Homo sapiens: one gene and its partners. The protein of the gene in region 2 interacts with the protein of the main gene of each other region in a biochemical or structural test. Each region holds a gene or a part of one and is shown on either strand. Other genes may lie near its edges.

What was found.
Region 1: the proteins of TLK1 (region 2) and CCNB3 form a complex in vitro, tested with the Homo sapiens proteins (one large-scale study listed by BioGRID).
Region 3: the proteins of TLK1 (region 2) and ZMYM5 form a complex in vitro, tested with the Homo sapiens proteins (one large-scale study listed by BioGRID).
Region 4: the proteins of TLK1 (region 2) and PATL1 form a complex in vitro, tested with the Homo sapiens proteins (one large-scale study listed by BioGRID).
Region 5: the proteins of TLK1 (region 2) and CORO2A form a complex in vitro, tested with the Homo sapiens proteins (one large-scale study listed by BioGRID).
Region 6: the proteins of TLK1 (region 2) and CFAP20 form a complex in vitro, tested with the Homo sapiens proteins (one large-scale study listed by BioGRID).
Region 7: the proteins of TLK1 (region 2) and SULT1C4 form a complex in vitro, tested with the Homo sapiens proteins (one large-scale study listed by BioGRID).

The regions. Positions count from the first base shown.
Region 1 is NC_000023.11:50,203,090-50,207,760, reverse strand, and holds the start of CCNB3 (G2/mitotic-specific cyclin-B3), read right to left. Parts: upstream 2,997-4,671; 5' UTR 2,811-2,996; intron 1-2,810. UniProt on the Homo sapiens protein: Cyclins are positive regulatory subunits of the cyclin-dependent kinases (CDKs), and thereby play an essential role in the control of the cell cycle, notably via their destruction during cell division.
Region 2 is NC_000002.12:171,007,328-171,011,250, forward strand, and holds part of TLK1 (serine/threonine-protein kinase tousled-like 1), read right to left. Parts: intron 1-3,923. UniProt on the Homo sapiens protein: Rapidly and transiently inhibited by phosphorylation following the generation of DNA double-stranded breaks during S-phase. This is cell cycle checkpoint and ATM-pathway dependent and appears to regulate processes involved in chromatin assembly.
Region 3 is NC_000013.11:19,860,850-19,864,899, forward strand, and holds the start of ZMYM5 (zinc finger MYM-type protein 5), read right to left. Parts: upstream 2,801-4,050; 5' UTR 2,601-2,800; intron 2,521-2,600; exon of another isoform or gene 1,978-2,520; coding exon of another isoform or gene 1,975-1,977; intron 1,618-1,974; coding exon of another isoform or gene 1,550-1,617; intron 1-1,549. UniProt on the Homo sapiens protein: Functions as a transcriptional regulator.
Region 4 is NC_000011.10:59,641,211-59,645,133, reverse strand, and holds part of PATL1 (protein PAT1 homolog 1), read left to right. Parts: intron 1-2,098; coding exon 2,099-2,254; intron 2,255-3,923. UniProt on the Homo sapiens protein: RNA-binding protein involved in deadenylation-dependent decapping of mRNAs, leading to the degradation of mRNAs. Acts as a scaffold protein that connects deadenylation and decapping machinery.
Region 5 is NC_000009.12:98,136,918-98,140,840, forward strand, and holds part of CORO2A (coronin-2A), read right to left. Parts: intron 772-3,923; coding exon 655-771; intron 1-654.
Region 6 is NC_000016.10:58,115,957-58,119,524, reverse strand, and holds part of CFAP20 (cilia- and flagella-associated protein 20), read left to right. Parts: intron 1-2,573; coding exon 2,574-2,653; intron 2,654-3,372; coding exon 3,373-3,484; intron 3,485-3,568. UniProt on the Homo sapiens protein: Cilium- and flagellum-specific protein that plays a role in axonemal structure organization and motility. Microtubule inner protein (MIP) part of the dynein-decorated doublet microtubules (DMTs) in cilia axoneme, which is required for motile cilia beating.
Region 7 is NC_000002.12:108,376,473-108,380,955, forward strand, and holds the start of SULT1C4 (sulfotransferase 1C4), read left to right. Parts: upstream 1-1,481; 5' UTR 1,482-1,865; coding exon 1,866-2,034; intron 2,035-4,483. UniProt on the Homo sapiens protein: Sulfotransferase that utilizes 3'-phospho-5'-adenylyl sulfate (PAPS) as sulfonate donor to catalyze the sulfate conjugation of phenolic compounds.

The DNA of each region.
Region 1 (4,671 bases), on a different chromosome or scaffold from region 2:
AATCATATTTCAACAAAGCTATTATAAAAAATAACAGAGTAGCTAATAAAGTATATCAGTTCCTAAAAACTGTTACATTGAAGAGTGGCAAGGATAGATTCAGTGGAATCAGTTAGCCAGTTATTACAATAATCCAGGCAGTTTGGATCAGGATGACCCAATGTTTTTGGCCTTGACCAAGCACTTCTATGTGGTCCTGGGGCTAGCAATTCTTGAAGAACCATTACCACTTATTTTCAATTATGTAAATATCATTAGGCATTTGCTAATATATATGAACCTGTGCTACCCTTAGCAGGGTAAGTGAAAATGGGCAAAACACAGTCATTCTCTTCAAGAAGTCCTGTTTTTGGAAAGATAAAGCTCATAATGAAACAAATACACCACAAGGCAGAATGTGATATGTGAATTTATAAATTCACTAGGTGAATGTAAAACTGTTGAGAATTTCAGAAGACACAAATGATTGAGTCCACTCTTATAATCAACACCATCACTATTGTCATAATCATCTCAACATCACCAAGAGTTACTGAGTGTCTAAGCACATGAGCCACTGCTAGGTTGTACACAGAGACAGTTACTGCCTTCCTTGAACCTATACATATCTTCATAATGGAAATATTAAGGAAATGTATCAATAAATACGACATACACAAAAATGCAGTTTTTAGGATGGGGAGTGATTCTGTCAAGAGAAATCACCAATTTCCCTTTTAATTGGAGGAACACCTTCTCAAGACGGCTTTTTTACGGGGTGTTCTCCTACTGCATGGGAATACGTTTTCCAACAGCTGCGACCTCCTAGTGACCACATGAAGTCATTACCCCGATTCATCATCCTGACTTGAGAGCAAGAGGCACAGGAGGCTGGAGTGCAGTTGGCGAGATCACTCCTCATTACAGCATCAACCTCCCATGCTCAAGCGATCCTCCCACCTCAGCCTCCGGAGTAACTGGGACTACAGGCACGCGCCACCACACCCAGCTAATTTTTTTTTTCTTTTGGTAGAAATGGAGGTTTTGCTCTGTTGCCCAGGCTGGTCTCAAACTCAGACTCTTGCCTTCAAGCAATACTCCCACCTCAGCCTCTCAAAGTGCTGGAATTACAAGAGTGAGCCACCGTGCCCAGCTGTCATAAAGTAATACTATATTTCATTTTTATTATTTTTTCTTTTGAGACAGTCTTGCTCTGTCGTCCTGGCTGGAGTGCAGTGGCATGATCTCGGCTCACTGCAACCTCCCACTCCCAGGCTCAAGTGATCCTCCCACCTCAGCCTCCCGAGTAACTGGGACTACAGGCGGGCACCACAACACACTGCTAATTTTATTTTATTTCATTTATTTTTTGGTAGAGACGGAAGTTTTGCTATGTTGCCCAGGCTGGTCTCAAAGTCCTGCCCTCAAGCTTTCTTCCCGCCTCAGCCTCCGAAGGTGCTGGTATTACAGGAGTGAGCCGCAGCGCCCAGCTGTTACCAAGTAATAGTATATTTTATTTATTTATTTATTTATTTATTTTGAGATGGAATCTCGCTCTGTCGCCAGGCTGGAGTGCAGTGGCGCCATCCCGGCTCACTGCAACCTCTGTCTCCCGGGCTCAAGTGATTTTCCTGCCTCAGCCTCCCAAGTAGCTATAGACGCATGCCACCATGTCCCGCTAGTTTTTGCATTTTTAGTAGAGACGGGGTTTCACCTTGTTGGCCAGGATGGTCTCGATCTTTTGATCTCGTGATCCGCCTGCCTCAGCCTCCCAAAGTGCTGGCACTACAGGCGTGAGCTACCGTGCCCAGCTATTTAATTTTTTTTTCTTTTGAGACAAGAGTCTCACTCTGTCGTTCAGGCTGGAGTGCAGTGGCACGATCTCGTCTCACTACAACCTCTGCCTCCTGGACTCAAGTGATTCTCCTGCCTTAGCCTCCCAAGTAGCTACAGACGCATGCCACCATGCCCAGCTAATTTTTGTATTGTTAATAGAGACGGGGTTTCACCATGTTGGCCAGGATGGTCTCGATCTCTTGACCTCGTGATCCGCCTGCCTCAGCCTCCCAAAGTGCTGGGATTACAGGCGTGAGCCACTGCGCCTGGCTATTTAATTCTTTTTCTTTTGAGACAAGAGTCTTACTCTGTCGCCCAGGCTGGAGTGCAGTGGCGCCATCTTGGCTCACTGCAACCTTTGCCTCCCAGTTCAAGCCATCCTCCTGCCGCAGCCACTGCACCCAGCTGTAATGTTTAATACATTCATTCACTGATACACTATCTGCAGGGCAGGATAAACATTTTGTCACCAAGTAACTGTATATTTAAGTTTTTTTTTTCTTTTGAGACAGAGTCTTGCTCTGTCACCCAGGATGGAGTGCAGTGGCACCATCTTGGCTCACTGCAACTCTGCCTCCCAGTTTCAAGCGATTCTTCCGCCTCAGCCTCCCGAGTAGCTGGGACTACAGGCGCGCGCTACCACGCCCGGCTAATTTTTGTCTTTTTAGTAGAGACGGGGTTTCGCCATGGTGGTCAAGCTGGTCTCGAATTCCTGAGCTCAGGTGATCTGCCCGCCCCGGCCTCCCAAAGTGCTGGGATTACAGGCGTGAGCCACCACGGTCAGCCTGAAGTACTTTTTAAAGGTTATTTTTTCAGATGTTCCAGAAAAGTTTGTTGGTTTGACAGGGAGGAAATAAACTAATTAAAGGCTAGTTCCCTCAGCCAGTTTTCCTCCCACATCTCCAGCCTGACACAGGATATACTTCTATATTTATAATATATAATCAATATATAAGGCAAAAAGCTCTCGTCACGACTGACAATACATGTTGTACCTTTAACAAGCCACAAATGGACTGGAAGAAAAGCTATTAGCAGAATGTTCTCCACCTATCGGAAACTGAAAGAAAACAATACAAAAATAAACCAATCAAAATGTAGATGAGGAACAGAGAGAGAGAGAGAGAGAGGCGACCAACCGCCTCAGCCCAACTGTCTCAGAATGACGGAAATGCTTCCACAGAAATGCACCTCAGAACAACTGGTACGAGAGGCGGCCGGATTGACCCCACCATTCTCACCAGCAGGGGGAGATCACGAATCAGCGCTTTTTTTTTTTTTTTTTTTAGTCAGACTTAAAACCACCAGATGGGGCCAGAAGATCAGAGTAAATACCTTTCTACTTTTCTTTTTCTCAGGGAATTTCTCTTCTATCTCCAGACCCTGAAAGAAATAAAAGGCATGCTAATCACCACACACACACACGCGCGCGCCCCGCCACCCCCACCCCCAAGACGATGGAAGTGGCCAGTGCTGCCAAGCACCCCCACCAGTCACGTGGCCTCTGCGCTCCAGCGAGTCATTTATAATTAAAGTGGTAGGCATTTCATAAGGCTGTGCGTGAATTGAGATAATGCATGTAATACACAGTACCAGGCAAATTCTCAGTCCCCACTCCAGACCCGTAGAATGAGAAACTGAAGCCCTCCAGGTGATTCTGATGCACGCCAAAGTGTGACAATTACTGCTCTGGGAAAGAAGCCTGCCCACTCAGATAGCTAACCAAGTTTTTTGGTCATTTTTACAGATCCCATGACGCTGTGATTTCTGAATTATGTTTTCTGCCCTAAAAATTCCAAAACCTTGTGTCTTGAGCCCACCTGTGTGCCCAGTATTGTGGTGGATGCAATGAAAAAGAGATAGATAACCTTCTAGGCTTGCAATGTAGGTAATCTAGGAATAGGAAAAGGTAATTAACTCTACAAGGCCAGATTTAGTAAATGTCAGATGAATTATCCTGACAATAAGCAAATGTTCTAGGAAATCAGGGGAAGGAAATTTCATAATTATAAAAGGGAAGAGCCTGACCAGAAATAGCCACTGCCAAGCCAAGCCCACCCCTCAAAATTAGCCATAAGTCATTTTCTACCGCAAGGTTATGGAACAGAACTTTAGCTGCCTAATTAAGCCCCTGCCTATAAAAGAACCCCTAACATTCCTAAGACTCCACTTATCTTTAGCAGTTGCCCCCTGAAATTTTTTTATGATAATGTTTATAGACTTTAAAAGTCCTTTATTTTCCCCCTCCACTCCTCCAATCACTCATAGGAAAGAAAAAATATGTACAATGCAGACAAAACACAAACACTTGACAGAAGTAATTATACAGTTCCACTGCCAAGATGTTCAAAATGACTAATTTTTCACTTTAGTATGGTTGCATGAAGCTGCTCTAAATGTCATTGTGTACTCTCATGGCAGGAAAACCAAATCAGGAGAAAAAGAAGTGGTGTTCCCAATTATATTGGTCCACAGTAAATGATGTCTGATAATCATTGGCATCACTGCCCATTTTCTAAATGGTCATTGTGTCATCACATAAAAGGTAGGCTAAATCTGAGGCTGGAAGACACCCAGCAAGACTACCAGACAGACAGTGATTTCATGAAGGCTGATGGTTCACTTCATTTAATTTCCTTTTGCCATTATTCATGATAATTATATTATAAACGCAGGTCCCATTTTTATTATCTTCATAGTTTTTTCTAGCCAAATGCAAACCGAGAGTGTATTTAAAGTATTGATTTGCACTCTTATTCACAAGTTTGTGTGAAAGAGAAGAAGTTTGGGTAGAATAAACAAGGTTACAAAATAGATGATGGTGCTTAGAAAAAAAATGATGACCAAGGCTTTTGT
Region 2 (3,923 bases):
AAAACAATAAAGCTATTATTTGTTTTTAATATGGACTTATTCCTCTATACTAGTAGTAAGCAGCCAGGAAAACAGATGACTGTACCACTTTTTTTGTAGGTTGGATAAAACCTTTTAAATCTATCTTTTCCTAGCAACCCCCTATTTCTTTCTCACTTTTTAGAAAAATTAAAAAGTTCCTAACAGTTATTTTTCCAACTGTTGAAAAAAACTCGTTATTATAAAACTGTTCAAACATATACACAAGTAGACTACTATAATGTGCCCTTATGCCCCTACCATCCAGTTTCAAAAATTACCAATATGTTGCCATTCTTGTTTCATCTATTCCCTAGTACCCTTGCATCCCACCCTTCCCAACCAGAGTATTATTAAAACAAATACATTATTTCTCCCAGTAAACACATCAGTATTTAAATAAAAATAACCACATACCATTATCACACCTAACTACATCAGTAATAATTCCTTCATCTCATCTAATACCTAACCTGTCTTCAATTTTCCCTGGTTGTCTCAAAAAGAATTTATACTTGATTTGTTCAAATCACCAGCCTATTTCTTAAATTAAAAACACAGAATGATCAGTATTTTAACAGCTTTACATGACTTATGTTTTTTTAAAAAGCAATGAATACCATTAAAGAGACATTTAATAATTTTGGTTCCATTGTGATTTACACACAAAGGTGCCCCTTTCACTTAAAAGCTTACGTATTTATTAGAAAGAAGGTCCCCATTTCCTCCCATCAATTTAACCTAAAAATAAGCAGGAAGGGATAAGCAGTAAAGTGACTACTTTGGTACAAAACTATAAAAGTATGAGATCAGATATAATATAGCACACAGTTGTTAAGAATATTCTGTTTGCAATCAGATTAGCTTATTAGCTGAGTGACTCTGTGCTAATACCCTCTCTGAGCCCCAAAAGTTAGGGTTATTGAGAGGATTAAATGGGGGTAAAACATATGAGGTGTTTAGAATAATACATGGTACGGCCAAGAAACATTAGCTAATTACATATTATTATTAAGGGTTAAGTGTAAAGAAACTGAGAAGAATAAAAATAAAGTAAGTTTATATAAGGGACAAGGCGGAACAAATCTATAAAGAATTCAAGGCAATCATAGTAAAGGATAATTGAAGAAAAAACTAAGCAAGCAATAAAAAGTTATTATCAGAGTATACTGATTATAATAAATTATATGTAACACATCTTCCTCCCAAAATTTCAGGTGAGTAGAAGTATACCTTTCCATAAGGTTAATATGGCAATCACTCAGCAACTGACTCAACATCTCCCATCCTGGTATAAAATACAACTCTTTACTTCTTGACTTACAATCTGCTTTTTGTCTAGTTGTTTCCCAACAGAACTGGCAATCATGAAAGGGCTTTAAAGGGCTTAGAGAATGATGTCACTAGTATTTAGGTCAGTATAGAAAGTTCAAGTCACTGGGCCCCAATCTGCACTTTCTAATCTCTATGTAAGCCTCTTCTACAAAAGTCCTCACCTATGAGGGTAAAATAGTTATTTAAAATACAACCAGGCAGTAGCAGAGGGTTGTTATGAAGGCTCATGGTAAGTTCATAAGCTCAACAACTTTTAGGCCACGCTAATGCTAACTGCACTTTTAGTGACTTTTAGATCCCAGCTGAACTATCATGATAATCTTTTCTACCTTATGGTAAGCCTACTTCACCCATTAAGTGCTTAAGGATAAACTATTATTAGAATCAGAGAAACAGGAATTGGAAGAGAGCCCAAAGATCACTTTTGATGAATGAGGAAGGTGAGGACCCTGACGTGTAATGCTTATCTAAGTTAACAAAAAATAGTGCATGGTTGAACTGATACCAGAACTGAAGTTCTCTTAACTCAAATCCCATAATTTTTCCAAGTCAGAAGCAGAAACGAGAAGGGTGTAGTCTTTGTCCCATGCAACAGTCAGGATTTCTTTTCCTTTTTTTTTTTTTTTTTTTTTTTTTTTTGAGAGAAAATGTCTCCCTCTGTCCCCCAGGGTGGAGTGCAGTAGCACAATCTTGGCTCACTGCAACCTCCCACCACCAAGGTTCAAGCGATTATCATGCCTCAGCCTCCGAGTAGCTGGAACTACAGGCATGTGCCATCATGCCTAGCTAATTTTTTTCTTGTATTTTTAGTAGAAACGGGTTCGCCATGTTGCCCAGACTGGTCTTGAACTCCTGAGTTCAGGCAATCTGCCTGCCTTGGCCCCACCAAGTGCTAGGATTACAGGTGTGAGCCATGGCCAACAAGCAGGATTTCTAATAATCTTATCAGCTTATCTCAGCACCTATGTTCTATATGATTTACATGTGATAACTCAGTTAATCACTGCAACAACCCTATAATGTAGGTATTGTTATTATTCTCAGAAGGAGCCAATGAGTCAGACAGGGATTTAAATAAGAAGCCCAAATTAATAAAATTAGTAAATAGCAGTCAGGATTTAAACCTAGCTGTCTGGCTTCAGAACCAAAGCTTTTAACCAACTATGCCAGTACGTAATGAAGCACAAAGGAGCTTATAAAAAGGCACACCAAATCTATCAGAGAAGATGCAGAGGGTCAGGGAAGCTGTTTAGAGGAACTAAAGATGAGCATATAACCCTTCACTAGGACTTCATCCCAAGAGCAAATGGGAAGCTACTGGGGCTTTCAAGTAGGACAGATGATCAGGCTGCCTTTTATAAAAAGTTCACTCTAGTTGCAGTGTACAAAATGACTTGAGAAAAGCAATGCCCAAAAGAAGACAATCAGCTATGAGGTTCCGGAAGAAGCCTTGAGCTAAGAGACAGAAGGGAAGGGTCATGGCTGAATTTAGGAGAACTTAATGACATTAATAATAGCAGGAACTAGGGGCTTATAATATGTGAGGGGAGGGGAACAAAGGGAAAGGAAGAGCATACGATGGTTTTTGTGTTTTTTCACTTGAGGGACCAGGCAGATGAATGGCAATGTTATATACTGAGGTCAGGGAAGTCAGAAGCAGTGTTAAAAGACATTTTAGAGGAGAGGAAGATAACTTCTATTTCAAATGTGAGTTTCCAGTACCTATGAAGCACCCACATGAGGTAAGTCATGTATACAAACATACTTTGAGGTATTGAACTCAGGAAGAAAGTGTGAGCTAGATATTACCTGGGGGTGACACCAAATAGATAACCCAGTGAATGAGAGAGGATAAAAACCTTCTTAAGGGAGAATACAGAATGATAAAAGGGACCTTAGGAATCCAATATTTAAAGGTTAGGCTAAAAGATACAACATAAAGTACAAAAAAAAAAAAAAAGAAAGGCATAAAATAGTGAACATGGGGAGTAAAAATGCTACATTTATACATATGCATTTGAGAAACGGACTTGACATAGGTAGAAATTTGGATAAATTCAGGACATGTTAATACTTCAGACATTTTTTAATTAAGGGGTACAATCTTTCTATAAGTGTACTGTATTAAATGGCTACCTGCCTATCTTGATTTAAATAGCTGTTACTCTTTGTATTGGACTGGTTAATGGTGACTAGGTATCAAATATCACAGGGACTGTGCAGGTGGCAAGGACAGTCTTTGGATTCTGGAAATAAGACAACAGAAGCCACAACAAACCCTTTTTTATAATGAGGACATATAATCAATAAACAAAAGACAAGTACTTCTTTTTTTTGTTTTTGAGACAGGGTCTTGCTCTGTCACCCATACTAGAGTGCAGTGGTGCAATCATAGCTTATTGCAACCATGAATTCCTGGACTCTGCAATACTCCCACCTCAGCCTCCTGAGTAGCTGGGGCTACATGTGTGCGCCACCACACCTGGCTGACTTTTTTTTAAGTAGAGACAAGGTCTCACTATGTTGCCCAGGTTGGTCTCAAACTCCTGGCCTCAGGCACCCTCCCATCT
Region 3 (4,050 bases), on a different chromosome or scaffold from region 2:
GAAAAAATAAAGAGGATAAGGATTATATCTCAGGTGGGGGGGGGGGAATTGTATCTCCCACTAACTATATGCATGTATATGCGCACGTGTGTGTGTGTGTGTGTGTGTGTGTGTCTCAAACCTTATGGACCAGGCTTTTTTTTTTTTCTTAAGACAGGGTATGGCTCTGTCGCCCAGCCTGGAATGCTATGGCACAAACACAGTTCACTGCAGACTCAACCCCCTGGGCTCAAACAATCCTCCCAGCTTGGCCTCTCAGAGTGCTGGGATTACAGGAGTGAGTCACAGTGCCCAGAGCCACTTTACCCATTTTTTTTGAGACAGACTCTCTCTTTGTTGCCCAGGCTGGAGTATAGTGGTGTGATCACTGCTCACTGCAGCTTCAACCTCCTGAACTCAAGCGATCCTCCCACCTCAGCTTTCTGAGTAGCTGGGACTACAGGCATGTGCCACCATGCTCAGCTAATTTTTGTATTTTTTGTAGAGAAAGAGTTTTGCCATGTTGTCCACACTGGAACTCCTGGGCTCAAGCTCTCAAGCTATCCACCCACCTCAGCCTCCCAAAGTGGTTGGATGACAGGCATGAGCCACTGTGCCCAGCCACTTTACCTACCTACCACATCCTGCCACAGTCCTAAGTTTAACTAATTAAAGAGATATGCTGTGAAATGTAAGAAAATAAGAGCAAATAAGTTAGTAGAAAGCAACTAGGGTAAAAGGAAGGCAGGAATACTACTATGGGAGATAAGCTAATCACAAGTTTGTTTTTGATGAGCAATGGAAAACTGTTTGATCAGGGTTGAAAGGACAAAATTGGCAAGAACTGAATCCCAGATAATAAAAATAGAAGTAAAGCTTGTTAAAGAAAAAAAAATCATTTTGTCACTCCTAATGAAATTATTCACACAAGGATTGGTGTTAAAAGCATTAAGTGAATAGCTGACAGAGAAAGGGCATTTGTACTGTACCAAAATGAACACATAGATCACTGTCTAGTAGCAAAAAAAAAAAACCCGAAAAAACAAAAACAAACATTAACTTCCTAACAGAGAGAGATCAGGCCACTCAGATTCGGTGGTCAATCTTAGAATTAGGAATAGTTTGACAACTAGTTTATGTTATCTCCTCGTGTGATGCTAGCTGGAGGACTGTCAGGGTACATAAATAACAGTCTTCCTCAAATACAAGGCAAATATCAACGTCAAAACAACAGATTATTCAGTAGTGTTTCTTTTTAATCCAACAGTAAAAAAGTTTTTCCAATCTACTGGAAAAGAAAAAATTGTTAAATTCAAGGCACTTAAAAGAGAGCTAACTTTAAATCTTGTTCTGGAACTTGAGAGAGTTCCAGTGGTATAAATGTCAGCACTCCCCGTGCCTTCCCAGGGACTACCATGGCTTGGCTCTGGGGACAGGGGCACCCAAGCAATTAGCTTGAAGGCCAAGGCCTTCAAGATAACACAAAGGCAAATCCCTCAGGAAGAACACCCTACTACTGCACTAATTATATTAGACAGCAAAGCGGGGTAAAAAAAAAAAAACAACTCACAATGGAGATATTTCCTTCTTAATTTCTGCCAAAGCCTCACGACATAGGCTTGAAGGTGATTCCTGGTCCTAGAATGAGAATTGAAAACCAATTTCGGTACAACCAATCTGGATGCACAACCAACTCAACACCGTGAGGTGGCAAAGGGGTAAGAGGCCAAGGAGTTCCTGGGCTCTGCTACCCTCCCCCACCCTAATGTTACCGAGAAACTAAGTTGAAAAAAAAGAACTATAGGAACCGCAACGACGAGACAAAGCTAAAAGTGCTTCGTCCAACTGCAGTACTGGGGATGCAGTGGGCTCGGGGATCCGAGGCCTGCTCCCAGGACGGGAGAGGGAAGGGTAAACGTCGTCTCGACGCCAGCAAGGGATTTGTATTCCCTCCTAAATTTGCCCACCCAGCGTCATCTCTGTCACTCCAAGCACCATTTCAGAGGTAACGGGCGGCGCGCATCACCTCTGGGCCCACAGTTGCCTCAAGAAGTTGCCCTGGGGCCCCAGCAGTCGACGACAGGGCCCCAGATCCGCCATTAAACTCGCCCAGATCAGCAGCAAAGAGTAAAAGCCGCGCAGCGCCTGGGAAAAGATGAGCGAAGGAGGGGACCCAGCGGGGCAGAGGCAGAAGCCCTCGCCCGAAAAACCTGGGGACCTCGGCTCCGGCGGCAGGGTGGCAGCGCGGTCCTGACAGCGAAGACCCGGCCGGGGCGCCCCTCCCTCGCCCAACCCGCCCCCCGCCACTATGCGGCAGGAGAGAAAGAAAAATGCCCCGCGACCTCCCCGGGCGGCCGGCAACCCGCCCCGCCACCCCGCCTCCCCGCCGGCCCCGCGACCTCCGCCGCTGGCGACCGCCTCACCCAACCCTCCCGGCCTCGCTCGCACTCTCCCAGCCCCTCAGGCCGGACGCAAAAGCGCCGGTGACAGGAGGGCAGCCCCGAGCTGCCCTCGAGGCCCCGAAGCGGCAACGGCGACGGCGGCCGCGCCGCGGGGTATTAATCCCGGGTCGGTGGGAGCCTCCGGAGGCTGCTCTCACCCATCTCCGCCTCCCCACTCACCTCGGCCTCCGCCTCCTCCTCCGGAGGCTGCGCTGCTCCCAGCCACCCCCACTCTCAGCGGCCCTGGACTGGAAAGACAGCGGGGATAAGCGTCACCCGGTTCTGGCTGCGGCTGCGCGGAACGAACAAGCCCACCCCGCTTCGGCGACAAGCACAACTCCGCGAGGTCCAGTCCCGGCTTTTCGCGCTGGTGAGGAGGCGGAGAAGCAGGGGACGGCGCAGCAGAGCCCGAGGAGGCCCCACCCTCCGTGCGCTCGTTGGCTGGCGAGGGAGACGAGCCTGGGCGCCTTGGGCACGCCCATTGGCTCCGACGGCCGTCCTTCAGGGCGCCCCCTCGGTGGGGTGGCCGAAGAGCTGTCCGTCAGGTGCGGGCCACACCCGCGGCCCTGCAGTTCCACTCCCGCCTGCCAGCCCTCAACTCCCGGTCGGGTTGTCTCCCCGCCGGTCTCCCGCCCCCAGCTACCGGGTCCGCCAGGGTCAGGAGCCCGAGATTCGCCGCCCGTCGTAGCGGCCCGCTTCGGCCCCTCGGGGCCCGGGGCTCTCCGGGACCTACACAGCCCGGGAGACTCCGGCGGGGCTGCCTGCCCTCGCCCGAGCCCGGGGGCCCAAGCTGCGGCAGCGGCTCCCAACGCCTCTGCTCGAGGAGAGCGGCGGCCTGGATGCCCCAGCGCCCTCCCTGTCCAGTTCCTTGAAGGCCCCCAAGAGGGGCGAGGCCGGGGAGGTGCTGGAGCGGGGCCAAGTGAGCTTTCGGGGCCGCGGTTGAACTGGAGTCTTGAGTGCGCTGCGGTCAGTGGAGGCCCTTCCACCCTCGCCGCGCCCCGTGGGGAATAGTCCCCCACCTCCCGCCATGGCTGCAGCAGGAGGAGACGACGTCCTCCATTTTGTCGGGACAACTGTGGGAACTTGGGACCCCTCAAAACCAAACCCCGTGGGGCCAGGACTTGTCCCGGAAGCCCCGACTGGGCTCTGCCATTCGGACAAGGGAACAGCCCCAGCTGCCGGCGTCTGCGTCCGCGGGGCAGTACTGGTCGGGCGCGACGGTGGAGACACCCAGACGCAGCTCCCCGCCTCCATCAACCAAGATGGAGGGAGCTGCAGGCTCCCTTGGAGCTGGGCTCTCGCGGGTTGGAGGGGCTGAGGCCTGCCCTGGGGCGTCCCTGGGCGCCGCCGTCCTGTGCTAGCAGCCCGGGGCGCTGGCCCTGCCTAGGCCTTTTTACTGCCTGCCACCGTCTCCTGGTCCGGAATGGTTGATGGAGACTCCATGGAGGCTCCCTCCACAGCCCGCTCTATCGCGGGGCGCACCCGCTGCGGCCCCTGCGGGGAGCAGAATCAGGGACAGATGGCGCCCGGTGAGGGCGGGCCCCACAGGCCACCTCCACGAGGGGTCTTCTCTTTTGTTCCTCGTCTACACCTACGTCTTCGGCGGATGTCATGGTGCTGAACCATTTCC
Region 4 (3,923 bases), on a different chromosome or scaffold from region 2:
TCTTCTGCCTTGGGATCCTGTTGATCTGTGACCTTACCCCCAACCCTGTGCTCTCTGAAACATGTGCTGTATCCACTCAGGGTTGAATGGATTAAAAAAAAAAAAAAAAGTGGATGGGGAACTTTACAGTGGTTGGAGCAGCCTGGCAACACCTGAACCCATTAATGAACTCTTAACACCTCTAAGAGTGGGACAACCAAGCACTGTGCTTTTTTTTTTTTTTTAAAAAAAAAAAAAAAAAAAGGAAACGAAGTCTCCCTATGTTGTCCAGGCTTGTCTCGAGCTCCTGGGCTCAAGCAGTTTTCCCATCTCTGCTTCCTAAAATGCAGGGATTACAGGCATGAGCCACCATACCTAGCTCTTCTTGGCATAATGCAATGGAAAATACACAGTTCTATCCATGACGTTTTCTCACATGTCCCTCCCACATCCTACTGAACCTGAATCAAATAAACCTGTTATTCTAACTATCTGTTTAGGAGGGAAACAGAGGATAGCAGAACCTGCTAAGTGACACTGCCAACATGCAGTTTGCCAAATTCAAACTATAGAACAAATGACCCAGTTTCTTTAACAGATAAATAACAAGAGAAAAGGGCCAGTGGCAGAAGACCTGTTAGAGAGATTTTAAAAACCTTACCAGGCAAATGCAATGTGTGGATCTTGTTTGAACCATAATTAGCACAATAATGGTTCTAATACAAAGTTCAGCTGCTAAAAGATATTTTTAAAGGCATTTGAGGGAATTTGAATTTGAAACAGATACTAGATGATATTTTAAAATTCTTTCCTGAGAAATGGTCTATGAAGAAAAATTATTGTTTATTTTGTTAGGTATGATATTGTGAGAGATTTTGTTAGAAATACAAACTGATGTATTTTGGGATGAAATGATATGATACAGAAGGAACATAGATTTAATAAGATTGGCAAAATGTTGATAATTTGGTTGATGTTGAAATTGGGTGGTGAGTACATGAATGTCATTATGCTGTTGTTTGTATTTTCATGTATGTTCTAAAATGACCATAATAAAAGCTTTTTTAATTTATAGTAGACCACAAAAAATATTTTATTCCCCATTTGCAGTTGCCATTTAAAGTAAAACCAGCCATCACTTTATACCATGTGCATTGATTGTCTGGAAGCACTCTTGATTTCCTTTGTTGTGTTATAACCTAGTTATTTATATTAATAGTTCTTTATTTTAACTTTCCAGTTGGCTACATGACAAAAAGAAATAAATGACTAGAAGGCTGGAATTCAACAGCCTTGGGTTCTGGCTCTAGCTGTGGCTATGTAACTCCAAACACTGAGTTTCTGATCACTTTATAGATTCTCTAAAAATCTATAAAAATTGGCTAATTATTTCTTTTCTTCCTCATTGAGCTTTTATAAAAATAAAAGAAAATACATTAAATCTGAAAACACTTCTTTTGAGACAGGGTGGGTCTCACCCTGTCACCCAAGCCGGAATGTGGTTGTGCAATCATAGTTCAATGTAACCTTGAACTCTTAGACTCAAGCAAACCTACCACCTCAGCCTATTGAGTAGCTGGGGACTACAGGTGAAACTTTTTTATTTGTTGTAGAGATGAGGTCTCACTACGTTGTCCAGACTAGTCTTGAACTCCTGGCCTGAAGTGATCTTCTGCTTGGCCTTTAACCTATCTTGGAGTGCTTCTCACAGTATATTGAAATGGCCAATTAACCCATATCTTCTCCGCTATACTTTAGATCCCTGAGGTTCTGTGTCCTTTTGCCATTTGTTTTTAGCCCATGGTGTAGTGTAAGCATTTAAATATTTATGGAATTAGTTAAAATATTGATGTTTTAGCATAACTCTTGGTATGTATTTGGGAGTGATTTTTTTTTACACCTTTGGTTCACACAAGTCATGGTGTTTCCAATGCAAATTGAGATGAAAAAGTTCTCAGTAGATAGCTTAGAATTCATTATTAAGACTCTAGTCATATCTGCCAGACTTGTGCCTTAAGTGGTTGAATATACAAATGAACATCCTTCCATCCATGCCCCTGGTGGGGGGTAACTGAAGTAACACGTGCCAGGATATAATGCTTTTATTTGTTTTTTGTAGGTGCTGCCATGCTTACTGAGTCCCTTCTCTCTCCTTCTCTATCATCTTCCATCAGTGAGTATCACCAGCCTTTTGCGACAGCTAATGAACCTACCTCAAAGTGCAGCTACACCAGCACTCTCCAATCCTCACCTCACTGCTGTGCTCCAGAACAAGGTGATCTTGCCCTTTTAACTCCTTGAACTTTGTGAAATGTCTTAATTTGCGTTATAGATTAAAATAATGGCTGCTGTATCTCTAGCAACTTGGGAAAAAGGCTTCTTTCAGTCAAGAGTTACATTAAGCTCCTAGTAACCGGCTAGAAATAACAGTGTTTTCAACAAAATGGGATTTTATGTGTCTAGTGTGAAATAAATTTGATTTAGTAGCTCGACAGAGTCATCAGGGATCCAGGCTTTTTCACTTTTTTTCCTCTGCCATTCTTACCAGTGGCTTCCATGTTCATTATTCCTCATGGTCCAAGATGGCTGTGGAATTCATGATTCAGCTTTACATCAAGAAGGACAGGTGGATGTGGAGGGCAAAAAGATGTGGACCAGCTGTCCATCTTCCTTATTGAGACCTTTTCCAGGAGTTCTAACCAGAAACTTCTACTTACTGTTAATAGCCAGGACATTGTCACATGGCCACACCTAAGTGCAGGGAAGGCTGGAAAATATCTTTTAGTTTATGCCATTGTCATGACACATAAGAGTTCTGATAATGGGTAGGAAGGCATATTAGGCAATTAGCAGTCTCTGTCATAACACTATGAATAGTAGAATCATCCATTTCATATTTTATTTGCATCAAGTTTAAAGATTCAGAGATTCCTAGGGGAAACATAATATGAAATAAAGAATATGAATTTTTAGTCCTTCCCTGCTACTGTCTAGCTTTGTGACCTTGGACAGATGATATCACATTGCTGAATCAGTTTCCTGGTCTATAAGATGGAGGTGATGATGTAGACTTCATAGAGTTGTCCTGGTACTTAAATGAGATAACAGTTGTAAGTGGTTCGATATAATGCCTGGTACATAGTAGTTACTCATTAAGGGCCATTCTATGTACAGTAGAGATGAAAAAGTGGTCTCAAGGCCTCTTGCTCCTTTGCACCAGAAAACCTACCAAAGCATGACTCTAAAGGTCAGTGTATCAGAGGAAGAAGAGGTGACAGTGCCTCTGGGGTTCTGGAGTGATCCGGAATGTGCCTTTCTGTTATTTGGTCTCTTAGTTTTAATTTTAGTAAAGGCAGTAGTATTTTTTTTCTGAGAATAACATGAAAAGGGATTTTTTTTTTTTAAATCAGGGTCTTCTCTGTCACCCAGGCCAGAGTGCAGTGGCAAGATCTCGGCTCACTGCAACCTCTGCCTCCTGGGCTCAAGCCATCCTCCCACCTCAGCCTCCCAAGTAGATGGGACTACAGGCACATGCCACCACGCACAACTAATTTGTGTATTTTTTGTAGAGGTGGGGTTTCGCCATGTTGTCCAGGCTGGTCTCAAACTCCTGAGCTCAAGCTATCAGCCTGCCTCGACCTCCCAAAGTGTTGGGATTACAGGTGTGAGCTACTGCAACCGGCCATGAAGGGAAATTTTGTGGAAAAGTGAGTGAGTCTAGAAAGTTGGAATGGAATCCCAAAGTACTGCCAGCCTTCCTTTTATGATCCATTTATAGGTATGAGTCATACATTTAACCTAAACCTTCTTGTCCCTATTTGTATTTTCTTTTTTGAGACAGGATCTCACTCTGTCACCCAGGCTTCAGTGCAGTGGCACAGTCACAGCTCATTGCAGCCTCAACTTTCTGTACTCAAAGCGATCCTCCCACCTCAGCCTCTTGA
Region 5 (3,923 bases), on a different chromosome or scaffold from region 2:
CCTCAAGTGATTCTCCCACCTCAGTCTCCCAAAGTGCTGAGATTACAGGTGTGAGCCACTGAACCTGGCATATCTGTGGTTCTTGTCTTAAGCCATACCACCATATTTTAGAAGTGGGTACAAAATGAATTGTAAATAAGTAACACTGAACATTGTTGGGGCAGGGATGATAACCCTGGTACAGAACACGGGCTCAAAAAAGTGAGTGAGACTGAAGCTGCTGGAATGGTTTTAGTGTCCACATTCATCCAAGGCCCTCACAGCCTTTTATAGCTCGCTTCCTCACTATGGGATTAAGTGGAACATCTTTTCTGATCACCATAAAAATGCCCCTCATAGCCTTTTATAGCTCCCCGAAGGATGGGTTTTCCCATCGGAATATACATTTTCACTGGGCTTTATTAGCTGGGTGGAACTATTATGCCCATTTTATATGGGGGGGAACTAAGGCCCATAGAGAGGAGGGGTGGTGCCGCTAGTCCTACAGCACCAAGAATGTCTCCTCCTCTACCTTAACTTAACACCTCCCCACACAGTGACCTCACCTCCGCGATGGAGTCAGGGGCACCAGAGCCAAGAACAGGTACCATTCCACCCCAACCACCCCAATCCCACTCTTCAGGAAGGGGAAGCCCCTCAGGGGCTGACACTCACTGTGGCATCTTCAGAACAGGAGGCGATCTCAAAATCATCAAAAGGGTTCCACTTGACATCCAAAACGTTGCCTCTGTGCCCGCAGACTTTTGGGTAGTGGGGGTCCAACTTCCCTGTCTGCAAGACAGTGCCCAGGAGGGTTGGGGAGGAGGTGGATTCCACATTAGCATCTGGACAGTCACATAGTCAGTTAGCAACCAGTCAACAGGAAAACATAAGGGACAGAGCTGGGTGTGAATCTAGGCCTTACTTCTTATTCCCTGTGGGATCCTGGGGGAGTTACTTCACTTCTCTGAGCTCTGGTGTCCTCCTCAGTAAAAGGGAGCAATCACAGGTATTTCACAGGTTGGTGTGAGGATCATGGGAGAGGAGGTATGGCACAGTGCCTAGCACATGGCAGATGTTCAATAAAAGGGCATTTCCCCTCACACACTGCTGGTAGGCATGTAAAATGGTGCAGCTCTTTTGGAAAATAGTCTGGCAGTTCCTCAAAAGGTTAACCGGTTCCCACATGACCCAGCAATTCCACTCCTAGGTCTATCTCCATGGAAAATGAAAAGATAAGTCCGCAAGAAACTGTTTCACCTAATCCCAGCACTTTGGGAGGCCAAGGTGGGTGGATCACCTGAGGTCAGGAGTTCGAGACCAGCCTGGCCAACATGGTGAAACCCTGTCTCTACTAAAAATACAAAAATTAGCCGGGCGTGGTAGCATGCACCTGTAATCCCAGCTACTCAGGAGGCTGAGGTAGAACACTTGAACCTGGGAGGTGGAGGTTGCAGTGAGCTCTGATTGCGCCATTGCACTCCAGCCTGGGTGACAAGAGTGAAACTATGTCTCAAAAAAAAAAAAAAAGAAACTGGTTCACCAATGTTCACAACAATATTCTTCATAATATCAGAAAGTGGAAACAACCCAAATGCCCATCAAGTGAAGAATGGACATACAAAATGCAGTATATTCATGCAGCAGAATACTACTGTCCCTAAAAAGAGGAATGAAGTACTGGTCCCTGCTACAGCATGGATTAACCTAGAAAACACTAGAAGAAGAGGCCAGGCACAAAAGGCCACACGTTGTGTGATTCCACTTAGATGATGTTCCAGATGTGGTTTCATTGCCTGAGCACATTAATGCATCCCCCTGGTACCTGGTATCTGGAACCCTAAGTAATGCATATGAAAAATGCAGAACGGGCTGGGCGCGGTGGCTCACGACTGTAATCCCAGCACTTTGGGGGGCCGAGGCGGGTGGATCACGAGGTCAGGAGATCGAGACCATCCTGGCCAACATGGTGAAACCCTGTCTCTACTAAAATACAAAAAATTAGCCCGGCGTGGTGGTGCACGCCTGTAGTCCCAGCTACTCGGGAGGCTGAGGCAGTAGAATCGCTTGAACCCAGGAGGCAGAGGTTGCAGTGAGCCAAGATCATGCCACTGCACTACAGCCTGGCGACAGAGCAAGATTCTGTCTCAAAAAAAAAAAAAAAAAGAAAGAAAAATGCAGAACGATACATTCATGGAGACAGAAGGCAAGATTCTGGTTGCCTCAGGCTTGGGAGAAGGGGCAATAGGGGGTGACTGCTAATGAGTGAGGGGTGTCTTTTTGGAGTGACAAAATGATTTTGAAATTAGGTGGTGGTGACAGTTTATTCACAGTATATTCACAACCTTGTGAATATACTAAGATCCACTGAACTATACACCTTAAAACGGTGAATTTTCCAACATGGCAACAGGACAAAACCCCGTCTCTACAAAAAATCAAAAAATTAGGCCTGGCATGGTGGCTCACGGCTGTAATCCCAGCACTTTGGGAGGCCAAGATGGGTGGATCACCTGATGTCAGGAGTTTGAGACCAGCCTGGTCAATATGGTGAAACCCCACCTCTACTAAAAATACAAAATTAGCCGGGCGTGGTGGCACATGCCTGTAATCCAAGCTACTTGGGAGACTGAGGCAGGAGAATCACTCGAACCCAGGAGGTGGAGGTTGCGGTGAGCTGAGATTGTGCCACTGCGTTCCAGCCTGGGCAATAGAGTGAGACTCCGTCTCAAAAATAAATAAATAAATAAATAGCCAGGCATGGTGTCGCACACCTGTAGTTCCAGCTACTTGGGAGGCTGAGGTGGGAGGATTGCTTGAGCCTGGGAGGTCGAGGCTGCAGTCAGCTATGATTGTGCCACTGCACTCCAGCCTGGGCAACAGAATGGGACCCTGTCTCAAACAAAAAACAAAACACGGTGAATTTTCTGGTATGTGAATTCTACCTCAATTACATAGAAAGGGCATTTCCCTCATTTTCCCCTTTCCTAATGAGAATTCCTGTATAGGTGCTGGGAGGGACATACAGGTCCCCCAGCCCATGCCACACAGCCCTGAAGCTATTTCCAACTCCACCAAGAGACTTGGATTTCTTGGGGTCATAGAGAAACCACACCAGTTCAGTCACAGAACCTTGGACTGGCAGTGACCAATCTGCTCATTTTGCACATCACATTGCATGGCCCTGGCAGAACAGGGACCAGGACCCAGGCCCTCGACCTCCCACATCCACCATCTAGTTCCAGGTTCTTGAGCCACCCACCAGAATGCTCCCCCAGCCATTTTTATATCTAAGTGAAAGAGACAGCTGAGAAGAAAACTGGCCAACATCCATCCATCCCACAAATATTCCCGAGGTGCCCAGGGGACAGGTGCTGTTGGAGGGGCTGATTGCAAGGTGAACACTCAACATAGTCCTTGACTTTGCAGAATCAATAGTCTTGGGATTTTTTCTAGAGGGACTTTCAAGAACAGGGTGGACTCAGGGAACACCCAACCTTCTCTTCTTCCATCACCTCCCCATCTGTGTAGAGACCACTGTACTTGTTTTTTTTTTTTTTAAGAGACAGGGTCTCACTCTGTTGTCCAGGCTGGAGTGCAGTGGTGCAATCATGATTCACTGTAGCCTCGAACTCGGGGTAAGACAATCTTCCCACCTCACCCTCCCAAGTTCCAGGCTAAGAACTACAGGCATGTGTCACCAAGCTCAGCTAATTTTTAAAATTATTTGTAGAGATGGGGTCTTGCTATGTTGCCCAGGCTGGTCTTGAACTCCTGGGCTCAAACAATCTTCCCAACTTGCCCTCCTAAAGTTAGGGATTACAGGCATGGGCCACCGTGCCTGGCCTATGCATGCATTTTAGTAGCTCTGCAAACAGAGGAGGTGGTCCTGTGCCTCCCTCTGGAAATACTCTGGCTAATCCAGGTCTCTCCCCTCAGGAAAA
Region 6 (3,568 bases), on a different chromosome or scaffold from region 2:
CATTCTTCATGCTGGCGGCCCTGTGGGCTTTGTGATATGCCCCAGATCTCTGGCTTCCTATAATAGTCCACGGGGGATGTGTTATCCAGGAATTTTTAAAACCCTCCTTGAACCTATTCATATGTGCCAGCTCTTAGGGTGACAGATTCCAGAAGTCAGCAAATATTTGAACGCTTAGTTTATGGCTAGCACTGTGCTAAGCATTGTCGAAGATAGAAATGATGCTTCATAACTGGTCTTGGCTCTTGCTTGAGCTTATTCTTTTTTAAGGAGACAAGACTTGGTTGCAGTTGTGGAAAAGGTGGGCAGTGACATCAGATGTCACCTTTAGAACACCAGGCAGACCATGAGTGGATCAGACTCACAGTGACAGAGCTCACAGAGACTAATGTCTAAAAACAGAAACATATTATTAATAATTTATGTTGAAAAATAAAACTACCAGACCCAACACTGATTTATCCCCATATGCAAGTCTAATAGCCAAATCGTAATCAGCAGGCTGATGAGTGAACAAGAGGAGCTTTAGTCAGTGTGATTGAGTCATTGATTATGGCAGCCTAACACAGCCCTTTCCACAAAGAAAGACCGTATGTTTGTCTTTCTGATGTCTCCTGTTCTAAACCTAGTTGATCTTTTTCATATGTTATTCCATTCAGCCCTAATAGTCCAGCCTTGTTTTTTTGTTTGTTTGTTCATTTTTGAGACAGGATCTCACTCTGTCGCCCAGGCTTGAGTACAGTGGCACAATCACGGCTCACTGCAGCCTCGACCTCCCAGGCTCAGGTTATCCTCCCACCTCAGCCTCCTGAGGAACTGAGACGATAGGCACGTGCCACTACACCTGGCTAATTTTTTGTAGAGATGGGGTTTCATCATGTTGTCCAGACTGGTCTTGAACTCCTGAGCTCAAGCAGTTCTCTCGCCTCGGCCTCCCAAAGTGCTGGGATTACAAGCGTGAACCACCATGCCTGACCCCAGCCATGTTTTTTTGGTTTTGTTTTTTTTTTTTCGTTTTTTGTTTTGTTTTTTTTGAGATAGGGTCTTGCTCTGTCACCTACTCCTCTAGGCTGGAGTGCAGTGGCACAAACACAGCTCACTGCAGCCTGGACCTCCTGAGCTCAAGTGATCCTCCCACCTTAGCCTCCCAAGTAGTTGGGACTATAGGCACACTACAGGTGCACGCCACCACACCTGGCTAATTTTTTGTAGAAACAATGTCTTACTATGTTGCCCAAGCTGATCTTGAACTCCTGAGCTCAAGCTATCCTCCTGCCTTGGCCTCCCAAAGTGCTGGGATTACAGGCATGAGCCACTGTGCCTGGCCCCAGCCCTGTTTTGAAAGTGCCTTTGCATATCTCTGTTCTGTCCATATTAGTTGCTTAAAAGTTTAATGCTTGAAGATAATTGTTCTTTCCTAAATATTTTGAGAGGAGGAATCTGTATTGAATATTGATTCCTCCCCATCATCTACCTCCTACATATGCAGCAAACAATACAAAACAATGTAGGATGAGGTGCTAAATTATGTCGTCTAGACAACATGAGCCAGAAAAACAAATCAGAGAAAAGAGAGGTCAGTGTGGGCTGAAAATGCTAAAGAAGGCATCTGTGTGTGGCACAGATGGGAATTGAATTCCTGCTTTAAAAAGTAGAAAATTAGGCAAAAGCAGATAGGGAAGCATGAAGCAGGATAACTCCAGGGGAGGAATGCTTTCACTTTTTGTTGCTGCCCTCCTCAGTAACACTCAGCTTTTCTTTGGCTTTTCTGGCCAAAGAAATATACAAGGCAGGACGGGCGCAGTGGCCCATGCCTGTAATTCCAGCACTTTGGGAGGCCAAGGCAGGTGGATCACAAGGTCAGGAGTTCGAGACCAGCCTGGCCAACATGGTGAAACCCCGTCTCTACTAAAGATACAAAAAAAAAAATCGGCTGGGCATGGTGCTGCACGCTTATAATCCCAGCTACTCAGGAGGCTGAGGCAAGAGAATCGCTTGAACCTGGAAGGCAGAGGTTGCGGTGAGCCAAGATCGCGCCATTGCACTCCAGCCTGGGCGACAGGGCGAGACTCCGTCTCAGAAAAAAGAAAAAAGAAAGAGAAAGAAAGAAATCTACGAGGCAGTATGAGGCAGTGGAAAGGCTGCTGAATCCTTAGTCTCCTACTTAGGGTTTGGCATTTGCAGTTCCGGGGTGCCAATGTCCACATTTGTAAAATGAAAACAGTATCACCTGCCTTGTTGTTTTTATTGTGTGAGGCTTAAGTGAGAAGGGGATGTGTGTGATATTCCTGGTGCATAGTAGGCATTCAGTAGATATTAGCTGAATCTAAATTGAGTTGATGTATTTGGGGAGAAGTTTCCCCAGATTTAGGGATTGCCAAGTTACCTGGGATTCCCTTGGTGGTTGGTGTGACCCTGTCTAGAGGTAATAGCTTGGCTTACTTACATATAAGCTTCAGTGTGCTGTGTCACAAATTTCTTTGTACGCCTCTTGGGCTACCGTGGTTTTCTTTAAATAGTCCTATTCAGCCTTGTCAGATATTTCAGTACTAATCGAATTTTCTTTCTTGTAGGTACGGAATGGCCACATCAAAAGAATCACTGATAATGACATCCAGTCCCTGGTGCTAGAGATTGAAGGGACAAATGTAAGGTAGGTTGCCACCTCTGTTCTCCCAGAGACATCATATACTAGGGAGGCAGTACGTCATAGAGGTTAATAGCACAGACTGCGGAGTCAGAGTGCCGGATGTGAGTCTATCTCTGCCACTTAGAGCTTACCATGGGCAAGTTACTGAATCCCCCAGACCTTAGCATACTCATCTGTACAATGGGCAGAATAATAGTACATTTTCCTTATAGGGTTATTGCGAGGAGTAAATAAATGAATATATATAAAACACGTAAAGCCTTGCTTAGCACATAGTAAGCACGATGTCAGTATTAGCTATATTATTAACCAAAGTGTGTGTTGGGGTGGGGAGTGGGCAGTGTTGTACAGCTCATCCAGTGGGTGGACAGTGTGGTTTTCAGTGCCATAGAGGTCTCAGTTTTGGTTTTCTGTCATTCGATGGCTCCCCTGGACCAGAATTGAGGTCTTCTCTCACTGGAGGAGCTTCTAAGATCCACTGTCTGGCTTTGTTTTTCAGATATTTTATTGCTGCTGTCTAGTCCTGTGTTAAGCTTTTGTTTCTGGGTCCAGCGTTTGTTAAAGCAGCCGCTGACTTAGGGCTGAGGGATTCACTGGGTGGCGTGTCTGAATCTTTTAGATCTGCTTTCCAGTGTATCCTCTTGGACCGTGTGTTATTGTTGTGCATACCACAAAGGAAGAGAGTCCAGGAGTGTGTTTATTAGTATTTCCTCTCTCTACAGCACCACATATATCACATGCCCTGCAGACCCCAAGAAGACGCTGGGAATTAAACTTCCTTTCCTTGTCATGATTATCAAAAACCTGAAGAAGTATTTTACCTTCGAAGTGCAGGTAAGTATGTGTACATGAATGTGTCCACTCTTGGCTATACCAAAGTGATAGCCTTTGAACTGATGGGAAAAAGTGACCCTACAA
Region 7 (4,483 bases), about 63 Mb from region 2:
ATTATAGAATAAAATCTAACTGAAAAATTATAGGTGATTTTTATAAGTCTGTTTAAATGCATATGCATCCCAGGCATTCCACCTGGCAGTCTCTGTCTCAAGGGCCCATCCACCTCACCATGGTCTGGAGGGAGGGGATGAGGAATAGGGAAAGCCAAAGAATTGATCTTTTCTGAGTTTGCATCCAGAACATGGGCCACAGAGAAATGGTGAACAAAGTCACCCATTATTATTAACAGCTATGATTTATTCAACATTTCCCTGTTGCCAAGCATTAAATAAGCTGTTTTATCTCCCCACAACCATGAGGTAGATAATGTTAAGATCCCCAATTCAGACCTGAGGAAAAGCGTGATATGAAACAGAGAAAGATTCTGTAACCTGCCATTGCCCACAGCTACTGGGACTTGGCACAGGGTTCAAATACAGGCAGCCTGACTTCTCTCTGAAGGATGTCAAGCCACAGCCACCATACTCACCTAGTCCCCACATAATGATGGCCCAAGGAACTCGCTTCCTCAATTTTTGCTTAGTTTTACTCATTCATTCTTTCGAGAAATAGAAGAATGCCAGACACTAGGCATACAGCTATCAAACAGTGAGAAAACAACAGGCCCCATTTCATGTGCCTTAGAGTGTAGTGAAGGAGACAGAAAATGCCAACAAGTAAACACGCAAAAACTAACTGTCAATGGTTGCTCTAAAGGAACACAAAGTGCCATGAGCAAGGAAATAGGAGGGACCTACTTGAGATGACATAGAAAGTCAAAGAAGGCTTCTCCAGAAAGGGGGCATCAAAGCTGGGACACGAAGAAAGAGAATCAGACAGCCAGACACACAAGAGCCGACAAGATCTCCAGAAGGAGTGCTGCCATGGGGAGCAAGTGTGGCATGGCCCTGGGGTGCAGGCCAGGCCGGGGGCAGGGACTGAAGCAAGTTGTGAAATTTCTGATTATCAGGGGCAGAATGGATTCCTAAGGCAGCCACTGTCTTCTGTTAACTCTGGAGTTTTCTGCATCCCTTTTGCTTTAAATGAGGCATACATGTTTTCATAGCTGTGATGAAACCCCTACAATTCTCCAGTTTAGCATTATTTATTTTACTCTTAAAAAATAACAAAGCTGACCCTGGCAGATGTTTGTACTGGGAGATTCAGATCCATCCAGGCCCCCACTGTTAATAGCCCACGGGAAAGTCCCTGCAGTCTCTCAGGGAAGTCATTCTGTGTAGAATCTGTAATTTCACAGGCAAGTCCTGCAACTTTTTAATTGTTTAAAATTCCCAGAAGGAATAATTACTGAAATTATCTATGAAGGGTTTAATGGACACAGACATGAGAGCTATAAACAATGTGATACTATGTCCTGTTAACTCACAGAGAACGGAAGGGCTGGAACGGGACCCAGCCAGCAGGGTTTGTGACCGCCTCTGCTGTGACGTCACAGCCTGGTGAGGAGGGGGCTGCAGTTCCTCAGGAAACTGCCAGTGGACAAATTCATAAACAAGAGCTCCAGTTCCCTGGAACCTGAGTCGGGAGACCTGCAGCTCACTTTCTCCCTGTTTGCTGGCCAGCAGGGTTTGTGGCCGCCTCTGCTGTGACGCCACAGCCTGGTGAGGAGGGGGCTGCAGTTCCTCAGGAAACTGCCAGTGGACAAAGTCATAAACAAGAGTTCCAGTTCCCTGGAACCTGAGTCGGGAGGCCTGCAACTCACTTTCTCCCTGTTTGCTGGCCCAGACAGGCCTGTGCTAGAGGGCTGGATAGTGTGGTAGTGTGGTGGATAGAGTGCTGCCTCTATCCACAACGCAGCCATATGCTGACTGAAGATAACTTTGTGTCTGGAAGAGCCCTCTGATTTCTTACACTAATGGCCTTACACGACATGGAGGATTTTACATTTGATGGAACAAAGCGCTTAAGTGTCAACTACGTGAAGGGAATTCTTCAACCGACAGACACCTGTGACATCTGGGATAAGATCTGGAACTTCCAAGCCAAGCCTGATGACCTGCTTATTTCTACCTATCCTAAAGCAGGTAGGTGGAAGGGCTTGCAGGGGAAGGGGAAGAGGAGAGTTAGGAAGGTAAGTGGAAGTATGCATTAGTCATGAAATAAAGAAGTTGATCTGGAAAACTCTGGACAGAGTGATATGGCTAAGGAAAGTTACTAGTGGAAACTGAAGCTATACCGAAACATACTAAAATGACATACAAATTTTTAGAATTCAATCTTCCTATGATACTATGATGTACTTCCTTTTTTTTTTTTTTTCACTTTCCCAGGAGAGAGTGAAAACAGTTAAGAGCAAAAGGGTAGACTTGTTTATTTATTCATTCCCAATCTAGGCCCTTATTGTAGATCTTGTAAAAAGCTGCTTTGAGTGTGTGAGCTAGAAAGGTGATCCTGAGTCTGATTTGGGAAAGAAATAGGGGAGCTTTGGTTCTGCAATGCTGATATCACCTCAGCAGCCCTCCCATCTCAGGGTCTGAGAACCATCCTTCTGATTTCCACCTTCCTTTGTGGTAAGTTTTGAACCAACTGCCTTATCTCAACAATCAGTTTAACAAAGTTGTCTGTAAAAGTAGGACTAGCTTAAGCCGAGCCACCACGTCATAAAAATTGGGTGATGATGAGGTGGAAATAGTTCTCTATAAATATTTTTGCATATCTACATATCTACTAGAAATACATTACTGGGTCCACACACAAATTGTATATACATTTGCTCTTTGCAAAATCAAGCTGTCAAAAACTCTTGTTATACACACACAAACACACACACATCAAAAAATCTAAACCTCAGTATTTTCTGAGACTGTTCAAAATCCTCTTTTGTTCTTATCTCTCAAGATCCTGACAGAAGATTCTGCAGGCACATGGAGGCCTTGGTCTCTTCTTTGTCCATCTGTTTCATTTTGGTCCTGATTTCCCAATCTTACTCATCAGGAGCCCATTCAGGATCAAATTTTTCTGAATGTAAATTTCTAAAAGTAGCCACTGGTGAGGATCACATCTCATCATCTTAATTTCATTGACAATTCCACTTGATTATCAATTCAATACATAAATAATCTTTTCTCTATCTGCCAAACGCAAGTACAAAGATATGGTTCATTTAGGTTTTTCATGGCATTAATGAGGTTTAAGCAATTCAAAAAGCACACTAAGAAAATTAAATACTTGCCATCTAAAGTAATATTTAATCATAACTAAAACCATATACATTAATGAAGGCTATTTTATTAGAAGGAAGAAGAAACAAGCATAGATGGCAAAAATAGTTCACCCTAAATTTTTAAAAGAATAATACTCTGAATGACACAAGAAAAAAATACATCATAGAATCACTGGCCTCTAGAGAATAAATTGAGAAGTCATTCCACTCACCCCGGAGCCTCTAGCAACATTTGAATCTGCCCTCATGTTGGCTCATGTCTATAAATTCATTCAATTCATTCATTATAGACATTCAGTGTTATGGCTATAAATTCCCATAAAACTAGTACAAATGGCTGGACTATTCTTTGCATGGATAGCTAAAGATATCTTGGCCCTTTGTCCTGTAATAAAAGTTGCTGCCAGAAAATACAGGAGACCAACTACTATAAAATATAAAATGTAATTTAATTTTTTTCTAACCTATGCCCTTATTCTAGGCCTTTAAAAGCACTAAATTGAGAATATGGGAAAAGGAATCTATAGAGTTTCGGCCAGATAATACAGGAAAGATCAACCTAGATCAGGATTCAGAAAGCCATCCTGGCTAGGCATGGTGGCTCACACCTGTAATCCCATCACTTTGGGAGGCCAAGACAGGGGGATCTTTTGAGGCTAGAAGATTGAGACCAGCCTGGGCAACATAGGGAGACTCCTATGTACAAAAAAAAAATAAAAATTAGCCAGGCATGGTGGTGTGCACTCACAGTCCTAGCTATTTGGGAGGTTGAAGCAAGAGGACCATTGAGCCCAGGAGTTGGAGGCTGCACTGAGCTAGGATCCCACCACTGTACTCCAGCCTGGGCAACAGAGCAAGACCCTGTCTCTGGAAAAATAAAAAATAAAAAAAGCCATCCTAAAATAACTCAACATCCTCCTAACCTGGATTTTGCCAGAACATCTGGTGCAACAGATCTTCATCAAAGGGTGAAGATTATGTTGATAGCACAATATCACTGTATCAGTCAGGATCAGTGCAAGACACAGACAGACTGAAGCTGGGGGATACCATTCTACCTATGGCCACAGTGGCAGTGGTTGGGTCTAGGGCACTGGGCCATGGAACGTGGAATGGTCTCTGCAAAATTTCTATCTGCTGGGGCTACTATCAGCAGCCACCACCTCAGGAAGGATGACTTCTATCTCCCCACTGCCTTCCAAAACTCAGGCTAATGCATCTCACTGGAGGGATCTAAATAGCCTTCAGAATCTTAGTGGCAAAGGAGTTTAGGGAAGGCCTTTTACAGCCTTTCAGCCCATGAGATATGG